Linked DNA regions of Homo sapiens: regions 1, 2, 3 and 5 are each reported to be linked to region 4. Evidence: microRNA targets listed by miRTarBase, many of them from high-throughput screens and not tested one by one. Region 4 holds a microRNA gene; each other region holds the end of a gene's coding sequence. Distances are from middle to middle.
What was found. Region 4 holds the annotated microRNA hsa-miR-1257 (AGUGAAUGAUGGGUUCUGACC, at 2,140-2,160, shown strand). A microRNA usually pairs through its seed, bases 2 to 8, with sites in the 3' UTR of a target mRNA and lowers its output. Matches are read on the target gene's strand: a 7mer-m8 pairs with bases 2 to 8, a 7mer-A1 pairs with bases 2 to 7 and ends in A, and an 8mer does both.

Region 1: miRTarBase lists EZR as a target of hsa-miR-1257. Seed matches in the 3' UTR shown: 7mer-A1 at 1,253-1,259.
Region 2: the mRNA of ZNF584 is a reported target of hsa-miR-1257. The part of its 3' UTR that is shown has no 7-base or 8-base seed match.
Region 3: miRTarBase lists PSMA7 as a target of hsa-miR-1257. Seed matches in the 3' UTR shown: 7mer-A1 at 370-376.
Region 5: miRTarBase lists ATP13A4 as a target of hsa-miR-1257. Seed matches in the 3' UTR shown: 7mer-m8 at 1,840-1,846 and 7mer-A1 at 857-863.

What each region holds. Positions count from the first base shown.
Region 1 is chr6:158,763,185-158,767,240 of GRCh38, reverse strand. EZR (ezrin) reads left to right here. Exons shown (of 14, transcript NM_001111077.2): 14 at 163-1,493. The coding sequence ends at 327. It overlaps SYTL3 (synaptotagmin like 3), which reads right to left. Exons shown (of 18, transcript NM_001242394.2): 17 at 3,732-3,937; 18 at 2,370-2,746. The coding sequence ends at 2,637. MIR3918 (microRNA 3918) reads left to right here and starts at 2,488; the gene lies at 2,488-2,580.
Region 2 is chr19:58,417,282-58,421,337 of GRCh38, reverse strand. ZNF584 (zinc finger protein 584) reads right to left here. Exons shown (of 4, transcript NM_173548.3): 4 at 3,011-4,056. The coding sequence ends at 3,554. It also overlaps a transcript of ZNF324B not described here. Among named protein-coding and RNA genes, the nearest start is that of ZNF584, 11 kb to the right of the region's middle.
Region 3 is chr20:62,133,087-62,137,142 of GRCh38, reverse strand. PSMA7 (proteasome 20S subunit alpha 7) reads left to right here. Exons shown (of 7, transcript NM_002792.4): 7 at 194-410. The coding sequence ends at 286. It overlaps LSM14B (LSM family member 14B), which reads right to left. Exons shown (of 9, transcript NM_144703.3): 8 at 3,668-3,853; 9 at 1,769-2,980. The coding sequence ends at 3,682. Among named protein-coding and RNA genes, the nearest start is that of PSMA7, 8.3 kb to the left of the region's middle. RefSeq lists an enhancer at 2,801-3,300.
Region 4 is chr20:61,951,715-61,955,780 of GRCh38, reverse strand. It overlaps MIR1257 (microRNA 1257), which reads left to right and starts at 2,119; the gene lies at 2,119-2,235. RefSeq lists enhancers at 1,611-2,110, 2,921-3,493 and a silencer at 3,481-3,681.
Region 5 is chr3:193,398,906-193,402,961 of GRCh38, forward strand. It overlaps ATP13A4 (ATPase 13A4), which reads right to left. Exons shown (of 30, transcript NM_032279.4): 30 at 62-3,959. The coding sequence ends at 3,747. Among named protein-coding and RNA genes, the nearest start is that of ATP13A5, 22 kb to the left of the region's middle.

The sequences.
Region 1 (4,056 bases), not on the chromosome of region 4:
TCTCCAGGGAGCCTGCCTCGCTTTTGGAGCAGACAGGCTTGGGGAGGGCAGTGATGTGAGCCAGCCCCACCCAGCACCCCTCTTGCCCTTCCTGTTTTCCTAGGGGACGGGCCGGGCCATATGGGGAGGAAGGGACTAGACCAATGCTGCTTAATGTTACAGACGCTGAGCAGCGAGCTGTCCCAGGCCCGAGATGAGAATAAGAGGACCCACAATGACATCATCCACAACGAGAACATGAGGCAAGGCCGGGACAAGTACAAGACGCTGCGGCAGATCCGGCAGGGCAACACCAAGCAGCGCATCGACGAGTTCGAGGCCCTGTAACAGCCAGGCCAGGACCAAGGGCAGAGGGGTGCTCATAGCGGGCGCTGCCAGCCCCGCCACGCTTGTGTCTTTAGTGCTCCAAGTCTAGGAACTCCCTCAGATCCCAGTTCCTTTAGAAAGCAGTTACCCAACAGAAACATTCTGGGCTGGGAACCAGGGAGGCGCCCTGGTTTGTTTTCCCCAGTTGTAATAGTGCCAAGCAGGCCTGATTCTCGCGATTATTCTCGAATCACCTCCTGTGTTGTGCTGGGAGCAGGACTGATTGAATTACGGAAAATGCCTGTAAAGTCTGAGTAAGAAACTTCATGCTGGCCTGTGTGATACAAGAGTCAGCATCATTAAAGGAAACGTGGCAGGACTTCCATCTGTGCCATACTTGTTCTGTATTCGAAATGAGCTCAAATTGATTTTTTAATTTCTATGAAGGATCCATCTTTGTATATTTACATGCTTAGAGGGGTGAAAATTATTTTGGAAATTGAGTCTGAAGCACTCTCGCACACACAGTGATTCCCTCCTCCCGTCACTCCACGCAGCTGGCAGAGAGCACAGTGATCACCAGCGTGAGTGGTGGAGGAGGACACTTGGATTTTTTTTTTTGTTTTTTTTTTTTTTGCTTAACAGTTTTAGAATACATTGTACTTATACACCTTATTAATGATCAGCTATATACTATTTATATACAAGTGATAATACAGATTTGTAACATTAGTTTTAAAAAGGGAAAGTTTTGTTCTGTATATTTTGTTACCTTTTACAGAATAAAAGAATTACATATGAAAAACCCTCTAAACCATGGCACTTGATGTGATGTGGCAGGAGGGCAGTGGTGGAGCTGGACCTGCCTGCTGCAGTCACGTGTAAACAGGATTATTATTAGTGTTTTATGCATGTAATGGACTATGCACACTTTTAATTTTGTCAGATTCACACATGCCACTATGAGCTTTCAGACTCCAGCTGTGAAGAGACTCTGTTTGCTTGTGTTTGTTTGTTTGCAGTCTCTCTCTGCCATGGCCTTGGCAGGCTGCTGGAAGGCAGCTTGTGGAGGCCGTTGGTTCCGCCCACTCATTCCTTCTCGTGCACTGCTTTCTCCTTCACAGCTAAGATGCCATGTGCAGGTGGATTCCATGCCGCAGACATGAAATAAAAGCTTTGCAAAGGCACGAAGCAGCACGGGTGTGTGCTTGTGTGTGGGGTGGGAGGGCTACCGCCGACTCGTCTGGGCTCTATGCTGTCCTCTGGCCAGGTTTCGTGAGGGGCCGTGGTGTCCCTGGGGGTACACTGGTAAGTTGGAGCTGACCAACCCAAGACATGGTGCTCCATGGGTCACCTAACCTCCTCGAGATGGTTTCCACAGGAGAGAAAGACTGCTCCAACACTCATCAGGCTCCTCTAAAATGCTCCTCATAGCCGGGCACAGTGGCTCACACCTGTAATCCCAGCACTTTGGGAGGCCGAGGTGGTCGGATCACGAGGTCAGGAGATCGAGACCATCCTGGCCAACATGGTGAAACCCCATCTTTACTAAAAATACGAAAATTAGCCTGGTGTGGTGGTGCATACCTATAATCCCAGCTACTTGGGAGGCTGGGGCAGGAGAATTGCTAGAACCCGGGAGGCGGAGCTTGCAGCAAGCCAAGATCGTGCCACTGCACTCCAGCCTGGTGACGGGGAGACTCCGTCTCAAAAAATAAAGTGCTTCTCACAGCGAAGCTGTGACTCCCCCCCCCGCCTTGAGACAGGGTCTTACTTTGGCCCAGGCTGGAGCACAGTTGCATGATCGGGGCTTACTGCAGCCTCAACCTCCTGGGCTCAATCCTCCCGGTTCAGCCTCCTGAGTAACTGGGACTACAGGTGTGTACCACCACACCTGGATAATTTTTTGGTTTTTTTGTAGACAGGGTATCTATGTTGCCTGGGCTGATCTCACACTTCTGAGCTCAAGCCATCCACTGCAGCCTCCCAAAGTTGCTGGGATTACAGGGGGGAGTTACCATGCCCACCAGCCGGCCTTTTACCTCATTTGATAAGCACTGGAGGACATGGGTAACAACGTTTATTAAAATCTGGCCATTTTCTACATCTCAAAGAGGAGATAACCCACCAGAGGCTTAGGTAACATAATTGTGTTTAACGTAAATATACACAGATACCAATAGGCGGTTAAGCCATGGGACAGGGCCGCAGATGGAGACTGCTCAAGGTCAAAGGGGTCTCCAGCTGGGACCCTGCACCTGGTTCGTAGCCCCTCTGCAGACGCACAGTGCCTCACGCCTGCTGCAACCTGGAACCTTGAGGCCTTCATGTCAGTGCAGGACAAGAGTCATGTCTGTCCATAGATTGGGGCTGGAAAGGACTTTCTGCCACTGGAGCTTCGATAGTGAGCATGCATCCCCGCCAACAGCTGTGTCTCCCTCTGTAAGAGAGGAAGACAATTTAGCCATGGTCGGGGAGGGCACCACTTCATCCCCTCTCATCCCTTTAAAAATGATGACCAGCCAGAAGTTTTTCACCTCAAGTCCACATTAAAAGGCCAACCACTGATGACAGACGCCGCCACCACCACTCCCACCCCAACAAAGCTGGTGTTGAGACTGGGATTCACGCAGGCATCCTCTGCTCTGCGAGGCTCTAACAGCCTGGAGTTCTGTAGTTTGAAAGTGAGGCGAGGACTCTGGTTTGGTGGGCTGGGTCTTCACCAAGGGAGTGGATAGTTGCACACCAGCATGGCTAGCTGGGTGGGGCCGTCTCAGACTGGGGGCTGGGCTTGCCCATGGGAAGGGATTCTTAGAGGAAGACAGTATGCTTTGGACAAAATATCTTTGAAAAGCAATGGAGCAGTGAAGCTTATTTCTCTTCAGTCACTGGTTCTCAGTTGGAGGTCCTTGGAGATGTGTGCAGGTGTTTTTGGTTGTCATCATGTCAGGGACACTGCTGGCAGCCAGAAGCAGTGCCAGGCACAGAACCTCACAGCAGAGGGCTGTCCACCTACCATGCCGGCGGTGCCCTGCCGAGCGGCTCTGGACAGCACTGCTGTTCTGACCACTTTTGATGAAGTACTTTCTGAATTGCCATTTGTTTAAGAAGATATTTTCATTTAAGAAAATAATCCTTTTATGATTGACGCCAGAAACAAAAGCAAATACTGTACCTAGCCCGTTTGGAGGCCTATAATTTTTGTTTCTTTAGCAGATCTAAATCTGATTTAAATTGTCAAAATACTTGGCTGTATTATGGCTCAGCTGTAGAGTAAAAACTAGACTTAGGCATTTCCAATTAAGGCAGGCTAGGCAATTTCAAAACCAGTTAAGTCACTGCCCTGGTGGAAGCATTTTCTTTGCACGGTACCCATTAGGATAATCACAAAGTATAAACGTTTGGGCTCAATGTCTCAGACTTACTTGAACCAAGTCTGGTTCCTCCAAGCAAGCGGTCGTTCATTCCAAAGAGGGCCTGATCCCAGACAGTTAACTCCAAGCTTGACTGCCTCAGCTGAGCTGGGGTTACGCCACTGAAGACAAATGAGTGTTTCCACTGGGGGCAAGCCTGCTTCCTCAGGACTGGCGACTTCAGTCTCAGTTTTTGTTGGTCTGGCAGAGTGAGACAGCTGAAGAGGGAACACAAACCCTGCAATCATTGCCATCCACACGGCCTTCTCTCCTGAGGCCTGTGCGTCAGTGCAGACGGGAAGCACTAAGAAAAGTGCCAAGTCCACAACATCCACAC
Region 2 (4,056 bases), not on the chromosome of region 4:
GTGATCAATATCCTATCCAGCAGCCAGTCTGGGGAAGTGGGGGAGCAATGGAAAATGAAGATAATTCCTCCTTCAAGGGATTTTTGTGAAGCTGAGGTAGGAGGCAGATGGGACTCTACTCCAGAGCAGGTTGAAGACGCTGAAATCAGGAAAAGGCGCTGAAAGCACTTCCCCGTAAGACAGGCCCGCCATTGCCATGGCAGTTTGCCACTGCCTTGGCAACACTCGGAAGTTACTGCCCCTTAGCATGGCAACAGCTGGAAGTTACCACCCATTTTCTAGCCCATTCTGAATAACATTTAGCATCTCGTATGTCTTTAAAAGTGGGTATATAGGCTGGGTGCGGTGGCTCACGCCGGTAATCCCAGCACTTTGAAAGGCTGAGGTGGGCAGATCACAAGGTCAGGAGTTCGAGACCAGCCTGGCCAGCATGGTGAAACCCCGTCTCTACTAAAAATACAAATTAGCCGGGCATGCTGGCCGATGCCTATAATCCCAGCTACTCGGGAGACTGAGGTATGAGAATCACTTGACCCTGGGAGGCGGAGGTTGCAGTGTGCTGAGATCACACCACTGCACTCCAGCCTGGACAACAGAGTGACTCCATCTCAAAAAAAATAAAATAAAATAAAAGTGGGTATAAGCCAGGAACAGTGTCACACCAACCCCAGCACATTGGGAGTCTGAGGCTGGAAGATCACTTGAGCCCAAGAGTTCAAGATCAGCCTGGGCACATGGCAAAACCTTGTCTCTTAAAAAAAAAAAAAATTTAAAGAGATGGGGTCTTGCCATGTTGCCCAGGCTGGTCTATGAACTTCTCGGCTCAAGCGATCCTCCCACCTCAGTATCCCAGAGTGCTGGCATTACAGGCATGAGCCGCCAATCCTGACCCCCTACTCCCAAATTTTTTTTTTTTTTTGAGACAGAGTCTTGCTTTGTCACCCAGGCTGGAGAATAGTGGTGAGATCTTGGCTCACTGCAACCTCTGCCTCCCCAGTTCAAGCAATTCTCCTGCCTCAGCCTCCCAAGTAGCTGGGACTACAGGCGCCCGTCACCATGCCGGGCTAATTTTTTTGTATTTTTAGTAGAGACGGGGTTTCACCATGTTAGCCAGAATGGTCTCGATCTCCTGACCTCATGATCCACCTGCCTCGGCCTCCCAAAGTGCTGGGATTACAGGCGTGAGCCACTGCACCCAGCCAATTTTTTTGTATTTTTAGTAGAGGTGGAGTTTCACCATGTTGGCCAGGCTGGTTTCAAACTCCTGACCTAAAGTGATCTGCCCACCTTGGCCTCCCAAAGTGCTAGGATTACATGCATCGACCACCACGCCCAGCCTAAAACGATTTTTTCTTTAATTAGCTGAGTGTGGTGGTGTGTAACTGTAGTCGCTGCTACTCAGGAGGCTGAGGTAGAAGGATCACTTGAATCCCTGGAGTCAAGGGTGCAGTGAGCCGTGATCATACCACTACACTCCAGGCTGCGTGACACAGCAAGACTCTGAAAAGGTCCCATAAACCGCAAGATCTGGATCCATACTTTGGTTACCCTACGTGTCTCTCTTGAGCCCCAGAGGGAAAGCCCTGACACCATGACAGCAAAAACTTGACAACTGCAAAGGCCACAGCATCCAGACACCAGGAGTACTGGCTGGGTCACAAAAGGCACATCCCAGGACTATAGAATCTTTCAGTCTCAGGATAATGGCCATGAGAGGTGAACAGCCCAGAGAGGATATGAGAATCCAGAAAGTCTGTAGATTATTTGCTGACAGTGACCTTGACACAAATAACAGGTCTGCAATTGCTGAGAAGTTCTGGTGCCCTCACCCCAGGAAACCTCAGTTGCTGGAACATTTGTGGATGCCTCTTTAGAACTGGCTGAAATCCTCTTGTTTATCAGACACTTCACTCCATACTACTTCACTCAATATTTCTATGCCCACTTACTCTACTCAAATTACTCTACCCAACAGGCCCCTATAGGTCTTAGAGTCAGTCTATAACTTACCTCCATGTTCCAGATTTTGGAGAATATGACTTTTGAGCTGAATCTGGAAACAGCTCCTTCTGACCAATGCTGGAAGTTCTGGAACATTCCCTGGGAACAAGGAACCCAACTTTTTATGTCCATAAACATATAGAAGATCTCTCACCAACTATTCCCTTCCGCAAGGTGAGCTCTGGACCCACAAAAAAGCCTGACATCCAGGCTACAAGTCTTTCCCTGGAGGACTCAGGGGCCAATACAAATTAGGCCAACCTTGACTAGAGGTATTTTCTGTCATCCTGCCATCCCCACTGAGGCAGAAAAAACTCAAGAGACCACCTCCACAAAAGCCATTCCCTCAACTTACGGTGATAGTGCCGGATTCTATTCTCAATCTCTCCACACACAGGGATCAGAACCTCAATATTAAAAGAGACTTGGCAGGGCACAGTGGCTCACAACTATAATACCAGCACTTTGGAAGGCTGAGGCAAGAGGACTGCTTGAGGCAAAGAGTTCATGACCAGCCTGGGCAATGTAGCAAGATCCTGTCTCTATACAAATTTTTAAAATTAGTCAGATGTGGTGCCACACAAGTACAATCCTAGCTATTCAATACGCTGAAGCAGGAGGATCACTTGAGTCCAGTAGTTCAAGTCTGCAATGAGCTAGCTTCACACTACTGCACTCCAGCCTGGGCAAGACTGTGAGACCCTGTCTCTAAAAAAACTAGGCCAGGCACAGTGGCTCCCAGCACTTTGGGAGGCCAAGGCAGGAGGATAGCTTGAGGCTCAGAGTTCGAGACCAGCTTGGGCAATATAGCAAGACCCTGTCCACAAATGAAAAAAAAAAATTAGCCAGGTGTGATGGCGCACACCTGTAGTGCCAGCTACTCAGGAGGCTGAAGCAGGAAGATCCCTTGAGACCAGCAGTTCAAGGCTGTGGTGAGCTATGATGGCACCACTGCATTCCAGCCTGGGCAACAGAATAAGACCATCTCAAAAAAAAAATAAAAAAAAAATTTTAAGCGGCTTAAACAATAAAGCCTTTATTACCACATAGTCCAGAGCAGTATGAGACAGTCCATGCTAGGGCATGACAAATACCATGTGTAATGTCAACCATTTCCATGAAAATGGTAAACCTTCCCAGGAAGCCCCCAGCAGATACCAGCTCAGCTCCTCCGGCCAGAGGTGGGTCATGTCCACAGCTAAACCAGTCAAGGGTAGGGAATGAGGCCTGTTTTGGGCTCCACTATTAACGATTCTCTACTGTTTAGAGCAAGGAGCACAAGGTCTGCTGTCCCACTTGCTGTAGGGACCTTATGGGGTGGATAGAGGTGGATGGCGGTGGATAAACTCAGTGATGTGACACTGCCAACAGCCCCAGGCAAGTCAGAGTGCAATGTGGCTCCCGAAAGCGTCCCACACACCAGGCACACACGGGAACTCTCCCTGGGGTGGGTGTTGGGATGTGCAAGGTTTAGCTTCTTTCGGATGGCACTCTCACGGCCACTCTCCTTAACCTCCTTTCTGGAATAAGACCTTTCCTGATGAACACGGTGCTAGCAGCTAACGACCTTCCCATGTGCCCTGTCCTCCTGACGCCTTTCTGGAGTATGGACTTTCTTGTGCTGAAGGAGGGTGGAACTATGTTTGAAGGCCTTCCCACACTCTGTACATTCATAAGACCTCTCTTCAGTGTGGAACTGCTGGTGCCGATTGCGGTAGGATCTGGTAGTGAAGGTTTTCCCACACAGGCTACATTCATAGGGCCGTTCCCCAGTGTGGACTTTCCAGTGCTGATAGAGGCCTGAACGGGTCACGTAGCCTTTCCCACATTGCTTGCATTCAAAAGGCCTTTCTCCAGTGTGAACTCTCTGGTGAAGAATGAAGCTATTATTGTATTTAAAGAACTTCCCACATTCTGTACACTCATAGGGCCTTTCTCCAATGTGCACTTTCCGGTGCCGAATGAGGGTAGACAGAACACTGAAGGTTTTACCACATTTGCTGCACTCGTAAGGCCTTTCTCCAGTGTGAATCCTCTGGTGTAGAACAAGTGCGT
Region 3 (4,056 bases), 180 kb from region 4:
AGATCTGCTGCTGCTGCTACTGCTGCTTAATACTTGTCTAGGTCAGGCCAGCATCCTCTTGTTTTTCTTGAGGTTCCTCTCCAAAGAGGCTGTATGAGCAGCAGTGCCAAAGCCTGGCCGCCCTCCCCAGAAGAGGGCGCTGGTTCCTTGGCACCTTGTGTGGCTTAGGTAACCATGAAGTTTTTTTCTATAGATTTTAAATCCTGAAGAAATTGAGAAGTATGTTGCTGAAATTGAAAAAGAAAAAGAAGAAAACGAAAAGAAGAAACAAAAGAAAGCATCATGATGAATAAAATGTCTTTGCTTGTAATTTTTAAATTCATATCAATCATGGATGAGTCTCGATGTGTAGGCCTTTCCATTCCATTTATTCACACTGAGTGTCCTACAATAAACTTCCGTATTTTTAACCTGTTTTTTTTTTTAAGAGAATGTGTATCTTTAGGTGCAATCACAGCAGTCCTCTCATCTCTCACCCTTCTTTTTCAACCCTGAGCCACCGTAATTGAGCTTTCCTTTCTGTTCCTTGTGGCTAAGACAGTAAGCCAGTGTGAGACACAGGTTCCTCCCTTGGGAAGTCAGAGCTGCTGCCCTGGGTCCTGCAGAGAAACCTGGCCTTCAGCAGACCTGTTTCTCTGTTGTAGACACAGAATGACTTCCGTTTGCTTTTAGACCTTCATTCTAGTCCCCTAATGAATGTATAATGTCAAGGACACAAACACAAGTAGCCCTGGGTTCATTCTGTAGAGCAGCAGCTTTGTTCAAAGCAGCTTTGCATGTCTGACTTTCATAGACCACATCTTGACGTCTGCCCCCTATGTTGAAGACTGGTTCTGGCTATTCTCTGCCCTTTCCTGTGTTTTGACTTCTAGTCCCACAGTTTAAGGCTTTTGGGTCCTCTGGTCCTTGGTTTTGGGCATGTATCTTCTAAAAAGGAGTAAAGGGGCCCAGATACATTTTGAGCTCAGCGTAAAATGTACAGTTGTCAAAACAATGAACATTTTAACAGCAAGGTCAGCTGGCACACGATAACCTGACTACCTTGCGATGCTCTGGGAGGCAATACCTGTTTCACCAAGTTCTCTAGCTGGGTGAGGACTGTGGCCACCAGTATCTGGCACACGTAACATTTATTTTTCTGCTGGTCAAGGATACCCATTACCCCCACCCAAGAAATGGGAGGGCCCCCCACTGGCAGTTCTGCTGTGGAGCCTGATGGCCACAGGCAGGTAATGAAAGGAGAACTCATGCAGCTGGTGTGTCTCCTCGTCCTCTCTGAGGGCCACTTTTAAGGTCACCTGGAAACCCATTAGACTAAAATGGGATGCTCTGAGCCTAGAACCAGCCATGTCTTTGTTTTTCTGCGTGGGTCCAGGGTGCAGCTTGCTCATGGCTGTGTAACATGCTCTACGGTGCCTGAGAACCTGAACGCTCCTGAGCTGGGGAGCTTGGAGGCAGCAGGAAGGTGGCAAAGGGGCCACTGCTTATGATACAGGTGTTATCTGTGAGCTGGGTTTTTAAAAGAACTTTGTATCCAGTTTCTGAGAGCAGAGCCATTCATCCCAGAAGGGTGGCCCACAGGGAGAACCCGGGTCTGCTGGCCGCACTTCACCCGACCAATTGGGTCAGCCACCTCGTTCCATCACCTGATGGGGCCCAAGTCTCCCCAAATTCCACCAGCCTAAGTGTGTGCTCCAGACCTGGACATGATGCAGAGGTGACTTGGGCAGAAGAGTCAACAGGATTCTTAGAGCATCAGAAAAGAAAATTTTAAAGGTTTGCATGTTTATTTATAATTACAATTTACATTACTCCAACAGAGGAGCCCCCTTGCTATGTTCTAATTCTTAGCCATTAAGTCCTACAAAAATAAACCCAAGCTTTTACAGTAACTTAATCAATACAGAACTAAAGCCTTTATAGCTATTAGAGGGGTTTAGTTACCAAGGTGCTTATTTTCGACAAAATGCCCTGTCACTCAGAGGACGCATGCGTATACTAAAGTTCTGACCCATCGACTCATGCAACAAATGTAGACCCCACCCTCCCTCCACCCACTGTTACAACACAAACACAAAACAACGATGTACAACAGAGGGGAAATATGCTCTTGGTCAACTGACCTTGCAGAAAAGACTGGCTTGTTTCCAAGTGGATGAGAACGCCAGTGTGTGGCCAGAGTCCAGCAATGACTGACCGGCCCAGGTCAGAGGCTGGCAGGGACCACAGAAGGGCCAAGGCGCTGCCGGGGCTCATCCCAGGCTCCAACCCCAACCTGGAAGCTTGTGGACACCAGGCTCTGTGCAGCAGCTCCGTGGCTAGCGTCCAGGGCCCCTGGCCACTACTCCCAAATGCTTCTAGTCCACCCACCCCTGGCCAGCCCCAACCTTGACATCACTGTGGATGCCATCAGGGTGGTCTGGTTCACTTATACAACATGATCCATGGGAAAACCCCTTCCGTGCCCTCCACCCACCCACCCCTGCCCCCCACGCCACCCTGTGCTGGCCCTGCCTGACTCCTGAGACCCCACCCTTGGCAGTGGGGTGCCAGGCCAACAGCACCAGGGGCCAGCTGGGTTACAGAGATGTACTTGGCTGCCACCTCTGCCAACAGATTTGGTTCCACTTTTAAAAGTCAAAGCTTGTCATTAAAAAAAAAAAAAAAAGTCACAAAGTAAGGATTCAGCTTTCACTATAGAAACCTTTTTGCAAAATACCAAAACCTTAGAATTAGGCTATGCGCAACTAAAAAGGAAACACAGATAAAGAGACCTCAAAGAGGTTACCCATGAATACTTCCCCAAAACAAGTGGTTCTAACTCAGACCATGTCCAAGTTCAGTTAAGTCCAAAACACAAGTAGCAGTATGGGTCTCTTCCAAACTCCGTAAACAAAGTGACCACCTCTCCCTGTAAGTGCAGCGTTTTCCTCGCGTCCTGACACACACAGCGTCAGTTATGCGCCACTTCAGTAGGAGCCTGCAAGAGATGACAGGAAGTCAAGCATCTGCTGGGATAAGCTAGCACTGTTGCCCCTGCTGGCGAGCAGGAGCCACTCAGCCTCCCTCCTGCCCCCAGAGTCAGACTGGCTACCCCCATTCTTCTCACAACCCACTCTGAGAATCCTACTTGTACAATACACTGGGGACAGGGACGCAGCTAGTGGCAGGAGGGCTAGTCTTTCCAGGGCCCACCTGGCTGTCCCGAGGCGCTGGGTGGGGTTGGCACCAGGCACCCCATGTGGGACGCTCCGCCCAAACCCTAAGGTGCCCACAAATCCACTGGGACCTGGTTAAAAATGAAGCCTCTGATTCACTTAGGGCCGGGTTGGGCCAAGACACTGGCTTTGGAGCAAGGTCTCACTTGCTGGCTTCACCTGGGTGGTGAGCCCCCAGCCCACGCGACTCCCGCACCACCTCACCTCCCATACCTGCAATCTCACTTGGAGGATGCTGGGGCCTGGATCCTACCCCCACAGATGCAGGTTGAAGTTGGCCAAGAGCCTCCCGGGTGACTCATAGGGTCGAGGCCCTCGGTTTGGCTTTGACACCTCTGGGCCTCTCTTCTTCCTGGGAAACCGAGCCTGCTCCCCACCTTCCTAAGCTCTCCAGGTGTGCCTGACCCTACACCCTCCCACCAAAGCGTCCAGAAGGTTCATCCACTCACCTTTGGCTGCACCCTCACACCCTGCCAGTCCCGGCCCTGTGGGAAGTGGGGTTGCGACGGGTGGTCCCATTGCCCCTGCCTCCTCGGAATCCGCCCCGAGAACTGCGGCCACGAAGAAACCTCCCTGACACCCCAAAGGTCTCTGTGTTGAGCTTCCTCTCTTCGGCCCACGTCGTCCGCCTGGAGCTAAACCACAGAGGAAATGCTGATTGTAGCAGGCACTGACTCCCAGGCTTCTGGCCAGGCCTCGTCCTCAGAGCGGCCCAGGGAAGGAGGGACAGACTCACCAGGGCCACTACAGGGAAGGGGCGGCCCCGTCAGCTCTGGAGCCCAGCTCCGGCACTGCAGGTGCTCCCTGCCACGTTTCCAACCAGGACTGTCTCCACAGT
Region 4 (4,066 bases):
GTAAGGATTTGGCTTTATTTCTTCATTCTCTATTCTGTTCTATTGGTCTGTTATCTACTTTTGCACCAGTATCATGCTGTTTGGTAACTATAGCCCTGTAGTATAGTTGGAAGTCAGGTAATGTGATGCCTCCAGATTTGTTCTTTTTGCTTAAGATTGCTTTGCCTATTGAGGCTCTTTTTTGGTTCCAAATGAATTTTAGCATTGTTTTTCTAATTCTGTGAAAAAGGAATGTTGGTATTTTGATAGGAATTGCACTGAATCTGTAGATTGCTTTGGGCAGTTTGGTCATTTTCACAATATTGATTCTTCCAATAAGTGAGCATGGGATATATTTCCATTTGTGTCATCTGTGATTTCCTTCAGCAGTGTTTGTAGTTCTCCTTGTAGAGATCTTTCACCCCCTTGGGTACATATATTCCTAGGTATTTTATTTTTTTGCAGCTATTGTAAAAGGGATTGAGTTCTTGATTTGATTCTCAGCTTGGTCATCGTTGGTGTATAGCAGTGCTACATTGATGTTGTGACCGAGGCTTTACTGAATTCATTTATCGAATCTAGGAGTCTTTTGGAGGAGTCTTTAGGGCTTTCTAGGTATAAGATCATACCATTGGCAAACAGGTAGTTTGAATTCCTCTTTTCCAATTTGAATGTCCTTTATTTCTTTCTCTTGCCTGATGGCTCTGGCTAAGAAATTCAGCTAGTTTGCAAAAGCAAAGAAAAGAGGGTATCAGCCTGGGAAAAGGCATACAGGAAGATAGCTCAAAGTGAGCACATTAGATTCAGGGCGAACAGGTGTGTGTGGAGTAGGGTTTGAGGGCTACTGAGTGGAACTCTCAGATCGCAGAGGGAGGACCCATTCTCCCCCACCATCGGGGTGGCTGGGCTGGTCATTGTGGGGAGCTGGCTCGTGGCCAGCGTGGATGTCCTCCCCTCTGTGAGTTGGCTCTCTGCCCCGCGCCACCAGGAGGATGTCCTTTGTTATTTCACACTCAGCCTGCACGTGGGCAGCAGATGCAGGAGACAAGGAGACACGGGACACCTGGGGGTAGGTTTGGGATGGGCAGGTGGAGAATCCGTCTTAGTTGGTGGTAATGGAATGGTTTTAGTAGGTGGAAGTTACAAAGAAGCTTGTTTTGGTTTACCATGGAGTACAAGGGTACCATGGGGAGCCGAGCTGTCCAAATACAGAACTGGCTCTTTGCAGGCTGTCTGGTTGAGTGTGTGTTGGGGATGTTGCTGAGAGGATCTTGTCCTGCTGAGGGCTAGATAGGGCTCTTGAACGGTCCAAGTCAGCTTCCCATGAGGGGTCCCAGGGCCCCACAGCATCCGAGACTGAACCTGACAGGCCCACGGAAGGGCTGGTAGCTAACAGTCAGCACCCCAGCTGCAGTGGGACCCCTTGGCCTCCCTCCTGGGCTCCAGCTCCAGGCCTGGAAGGGCTGAACAGGCGGATGCAGTCCCAGCTGACAGGAAGTCTGAGGAGCAGCTTGTAATGAGCTTCGTTGGCTGACAGGTTTTTTTTTTATTAAAAAAATTTGTTTTTTTTGAGACAGAGTCTCGCTCTGTCACCAGGCTGGAGTGCAGTGGCATGATCTTGACTTGCTGCAAACTCTGCCTCCTGGGTTCAAGCAATTCTCCTGCCTCAGCCTCCTGAGTACCTGGTATTACAGGCATGCACCACCACCTGGCTGATTTTTGTATTTTTAGTAGAGACGGGGTTTCGCCACGATGGCCAGGCCAGTCTCAAACTCCCGACCTCGGGTGATCCTCCCGCCTCAGCCTCCCAAAGTACTGGGATTACAGGCGTGAACCACCGCGCCCAGCTGGCTGACAGTTTTATGTTACCACGAGTGCAGCTCCTTGTCAGGGCAGGTCTGTGATTGTGCTACGGCTCATTAACGAGATTGCAAATCATGCGTCTCTCCTGTGTGTGCCCACTCCCCCTGCAGGCCTCCGTGGCACTCAGTAAGCAGCGGGCTCAGGGAGAGCGTCCTGGATGGTCACCATGCAGGTAAGATGAGGAGGACACTTGGAACCAGGCATTGGATGCGAGCCCCACCCCATGGGAGGGGGACGGGGGGATGCTGGGCACCAGGGGGACCTGTGGGCCAGCTGGCCCTGGGCTTGTGCTTGGGGAGTGAATGATGGGTTCTGACCCCCATGCACCCCTGTGGGCCCCTGGCATCACTGGCCCCATCCTTCACCCCTGCCAACCACGCTTGCCCTGTGCCTCTGAAGCTCCCCCACTAAGGGGGTGGAGTCTAATTCCCTGCCCCTTGACTGTGGGTTCAGCCATGTGACTTGCTTTGACTGAGGGGATGTTCACGGGGCATGTGGTGCTCTGAACTGAGAGCTGCGGTGACCAGGCTGCTGTCCTGTGTTGCTGCCATCAGTGAGGGTGGCTAGCCTGCTGGTCAGGGGGAGGATGAGGGAGTGGGGGGCAGAGCTCAGCTGCCCCAGCGGCCTGGCCTGGACCAGCCAACCAAATGCTGACTCTGTGCTGCTGAGATCGTGTTTGTGTTTGTTACTCAGCAACTAGCTGATACACGGTCCCAGCAACAGACAAGGAAGCCCAGAGGTAGCTAAGTGACACTCCCAAGGCTACACAGCATCTCCTACTGGGAGCTGTGTAAGAAATGACCCCCCCCAAACCCTCCATCCTGGCAGCTGAGGGATGAAGGAGAGACCCAGTCCTCCTGTTGTCCACCTCCTCAATATCTAGGTGGGACCCCTACAATATCTTGATTTTTTAATGTTGACAATTGTGGTCAGCTGAAAAATCCCCCCCCCCCCACCCCCACCGCCCTAAAAGAAAAACAGCCCGTGAAGGTGACCTTATTTGGAAATAGAGTCTCTGCAGATATGATCAAGTTGAAGGTCTCAAGATGAGATCTTTCAGGACTAGTCATAGGCCCGAAATCCAATGGGAAGTGTCCATATGTAAGAGGGAGATGGAGGGAGGTTACACTAAGATGAAGTGAAGATGGAGGTGGAGACGGGAGTGATGTGGGCGTGAGCCAAGGAACTGGAGGCTGGAAGAGGCAGTGAGGGCTCGTCCCCTAATTCCCCGGAGGGAGCTCAGCCTTGCCGACCCCTTGATTTCGGCCCAGGGATACTGATCTCAGACTTTTGGCCTCCAGGACTGGGAGAGCATAAATGTCTTTCTTTTAAGCCACCGAGTTTGTGGGACTTTGTTACCTCAGGAAACAAATACAACAGTATATTCAACACTGTGAAGTGTGCTGTGCCAGGTGGACCGTGCCTGAGGCTGGGCCGGCCTGTGGTCTGCAGCATTGACCCCTTCTGAGCCCCCTGAGGGAGCCCCTGCCTGCCCCAGGCCAGGGTCTCAGTGCATCCGGCTGTCTCTGCCGAGGCCGCAGACCCTCCCTCTTGCACCTCCGTGTGCTTGAGATGAAGAGCCGGCGCTGTGTCCTCAGGCTGCTGAGGGGTAGCCCTTGGGTGGCTGGCCGTGGTCTCAGGGGCAGGAACGGCACAGGGGGCTGAGCAGGGATTTCAGGTGCTGTCCCTGCCCGACCCTCCCAGTTGGCCCAGCTGACTTCCCCTGCCTGGCTCAGCAGCGAGGGGCCCAGCAGCAGGGAGGTCAGTACCTTGGACAGCGTCCTGCAGCCCCCTGTGAGCCGAGGAGGGCTGTGTGTGTGTGCGTGTGTGTGTGTTTGCACGTGTGCATGTGTGTGCATGTGCACATGTGTGAGTGAGTGGGGGGTGCAGGGTCCCGCAGCTGGCTGGGCCATGCCTCTTTTGTCTGCCCTGCGGGTGGGTCTGTCAATACCTGGCTGAGTGGCCAGTGCCGTGGATGAGTGGCTCTGCCCAGCATAGGCCTGTGAACTGACCTCTCTGAATCCTCCTGGGACAGAGGAGTGACAGCGACCCCCATCCTGGGAAATGACCCAAGAGAAGGCCTCTGGGGCTCCCTGGAAAGGGCCTCAAGCTGGATTTTTCAGGTCGTTTGCCAGGCCCTGACCTCTAGGCCTGTAAGCTCCCCACTTGAAGCTGGGAGGGGGGTGCTTCGCAGATCACCTGACCCTCACCCCCACCACAGGGC
Region 5 (4,056 bases), not on the chromosome of region 4:
CATTACTGGAGTAAACCACACCATTAGACAGAATGAAAGACTCCACCGCAGAGAGAGAGACTGATTTTTATAACAACTGAATTTATTATAGCATAAACTAAATACAAAGCTCTGAATAAATAATCGTTTTTTTCAGTCATCACATCTGCAGGTGTGTATGTGAACATTTCCATAAGCACATAAGGATACAGATGTCACAGACATATTTAGTGAGGGAAGCCCAGAGTCACGGTTCTCTGTGGGTAAGAGCTAGATGCCTTGAGATGAACATACAGGGCACCGTCTCAAATGATTTGGACTATGTGACTGTGTTCGTTTCTCCTTCAGACTCTGCTCAAGAAAGTGTATTGATAACAGGTTGCTCCGCCCTCAAGTTTAGGGCACTCTCCCACGCTCTTTCATGCAAAGTTTTTTAACACCTCTCTTTAAGAAAATTCACAAATCAGAAGTATTACCCCAGCTTCAATCTGACAATCAGGACCCCTACTCTGCCCCTCTTTCCTAGGATCTTATCTCCATTAGGGGTCCCCTTTCAAGGTACAGGGCAATTGAGTCTATATGTCCACACAATCGGATCTGACAAGGCTGGGAGCCCTCCCTCCAGAGCCCATCCTCCCATGAGTGTCTGTCTGGTATTCTGTGTGGGTAGTAGTAGAAAATAGTTCACATCTGGTGGCTCATGTCTGTAATCCCGGCACTTTGGGAGGCCGAGGCGGGCGGATCACGAGGTCAGGAGATTGAAACCACCCTGGCTAACATGATGAAACCCCATCTCTACTAAAAATACAAAAAATTAGCCGGGCATGGTGGCAGACCTGTAGTCCCAGCTACTTGGGAGGCTGAGGCAGGAGAATGGTGTGAATCCGGGAGGCGGAGCTGGCAGTGAGCCGAGATTGTGCCACTGCACTCTAGCCTGGGCAACAGAGTGAGACTCCATCTCAAAAAAAAAAAAAAAAAAAAAAGGTTCACATCACAGCATAAGACTGAGACACTGGGTGTATCAAGCTTGAAAGAGATCTTGCAGGTAATTGAGTTTCATCTGATACTTGACTTCCTTCTCTACTTGGCCCTTGAATAGCCACTTGTTCCTCCAATGTCCTAGAGTACATTCCACTGCTATCAGTGCTGGCTGTTAGGACAGTGGTTAGGGCAGATGGCCTGAAGCCATCCCCACTGTGATCTTTACCCATTTGTCCTGATTTTGCCTTCTCATGCCACCTGGCACAAGTAGGATCCTTCTTTCTCAGGAAAACCCTTCACAGTCCCCTGACTGTTTTCTTTCCAGGCTGGGCACTCCCTGTTCCTTCAATTACTGCTTCTAAGATGTAGTTAATCCCAGGAATACAGTCTTCAAAATGAGTCTCTTTTCCCAAAGATTTTATGGCTGCTTGACTAGTGGAGGACTAGATTCTTTTCTTCCTGTTCCCTGCCAGCCTTTGCTAGTGATAGAATCACTTAGGATCAAGGCAAGAGCAACTCAAAGTCTCAGAAAGACAGACAATCATTTTTTTGTTTTGTTTTGTTTTGTTTTTAATACACCTCTAGCCCAGGCCTGGCAGGATGCCTGGCATTCATTTGAACAGAGGGCCTGGTATTAGCAAAGGGTTGCCCATTCTTTGCTTGACTGTGAGATCACACTAAGCAACCTGCCCTGCTGGAACTCTGGAATTTGGAAGTATTTGGCAGCAATATAAGGTTTGCTCAGAAGATCTGTATTTGAGGCCTAGATCTGCTCTTGCCATTACTGAATCTCAGCTTTCTCATCTGTATGGTGGAGATGATAAGCCCTTCCTTGTTCAGTCATGGGACAATTGGTACCATTCAGGTGAGTTAGTGGAGGTGAATGCACTTAGCAAAGGGCACATTTAAGTATGAACTGTGCAGGCTGATCTTGCTCATGACTAGGTCACAGACCATCTCTAGCTTGCCCCTGCCTACAACCCTCTACTTTTGGAAAATGAGAAACACTTTTAGAGAAGGACATTCAGAACTGCCATATCATTGCTGAGGCTGGCTTTGCAAAAGGAAACATTTCTTTCTGTACCAAAAAAGACAGTGATTCTGCAGTCTTGAAACACTAAAATATCTTCACGCCCTATTTTAAAACCAGAAGTAACAGGGTACCCTCATGGCTGGGAGACACCATGTTCCTAGAATCAGCTGCAATCATAGAGCCATCAGCCATGCTCAAGAGCTCAGTTAGGGGGAAGGAATGCTTGCAAATGCTATTGATAAGTTCCAAAGCCAGCCTGGGCCAGGACACTTATCCCCTGATCAGAACATTCACCTAGGATTTGATGCTCATAATACAAATTTTGCTTTTGCCTTAAAATATTATATGTAGGTGTGCTCCTAGAGTTCAGTGTTGTCTCCTGAGGTAACAGAAACCTGAGTCTTCCTTGTGCTGAACAAATCAAATATAACCAAATTGTAATAGTGACAAAATAAGGACAATTTTAGTTTTCTGGAAACTCAAGCCACAAACTTTAAAAAAAAAATGTACTAGTTGTGTAAGAACTCCCATCAATAGTGCCATATAATGCTGTAGCATGAGACTAATGTTTCTCAAAAATAATAAAGCAGAGGAGTGAAAATTTCTGGAGTTGGCCATGTGACATGAGAGATTCCTAAAACATAGGATAAGTTACTGGGGTTAGGAAAAGTGGGCTGTAGTGGACAGCACTCGTGCTTTCTGATCTGTTATTTTCCTCTCCTTCCCAGGACTACGTTCCAGACCAACTCTATCATTTGTGGGGCCTGGTACAAAATGAAAATATGGGGACCCCTGTTCAAAAATTAAGAATTTTAAGATGGAAACAGCAGAGTGTTAAAGCCAAGTGTGGGGACCTTCTAAGCATGGGGCCCTGTGTAGTGACAGCTCATAAGCCCATGAAGCATCCCTAAACACAGGAGACTGCACTTTCCAGCTCCCTGGCCAAATCCTTGACTAATGAGATATGAGTAGGGAAAGCAATGTGTGCCACTTTTGGGGTGAGGCAGTGAAGAGCCCACACGTGATCTCCAGTCTATTCCTTCCCCCATCACAGTCAACACACAGTCCTTGCATCGAGCTGATGGAGCCATCAGGTTGAAGCAGTCACTGCTGTAAGAATGGCAGTTCCAGAGTGTCACCTGGATCACGAAAGAAGCACTTGTGTGTTAAGGCACTGATATCTGAGAGTTGTTTTTTATTGCAGCATAGGCTAAGCTTATCCTTAACAATATGTTGGGTAAGGCCAGAAACAGAAGAAAAAGCCTCAAATCTGAAAAGTACTACAGAGAAAAGGAACCCAGACAGTAAAGATTGGTGTAATGTTTCCCACGCATTAGTTTTTCCATCGATGAAGTAAAAATTCAAAAATTACAACTCCGTGAGTATACACAGTACTACTTCCCCTCAACTCATTTTTATAAAAAGGAAAGTATTGTCCTGTCCTAAGAGGAAAGATCACATATTTTTCCCCTTTAGCCTGCTTGTCTCTTGGCCCATAGAAATTCTTGGCCCATTCTTGCCTTCACTGAATGCCTCTAATACCTTCAGAAGCCAAGAGGAAAGCACTCTTCTGGGTCAATGTTCTTCTCTGTAGACAGTATTTTATCAAACAGACTTTAGTTTGTCACCATGATTTGATAGGTAGCCCCAAAACTCCAGCTGATGTTACAAGAGTCTCATTTCTTAAAATCAATGAAACTGGTCCCTTTTGTCATTGTTTCTCTGTAATATCAACTTGGATATCACATGTCCTTCAGAGTTGTTCTTCATTGCTCTCAAATACTGGATTGCTGTAAGACACTCCTCTGCCACACTCCGGCATGTCAGAGTGGGAGGTTTGGTTTAGCGGGGGCCAACTAGGGTCATTTGCCAAGTCCCTCTGCCATATCCGATACTGGCTTTTTGACTGATAGCCGAAACATCTTTTAATCATCATCCACAGGGCTCGATTTTCAATAACAGCCTCCTGCAAAATAAAATAATTACTTTTTACAAGCAAGGGTTGAGTGTTTTGAGGCTACAGCCCTCCACAGGCCATCATAAGTCACTACTGCAATGGTTGC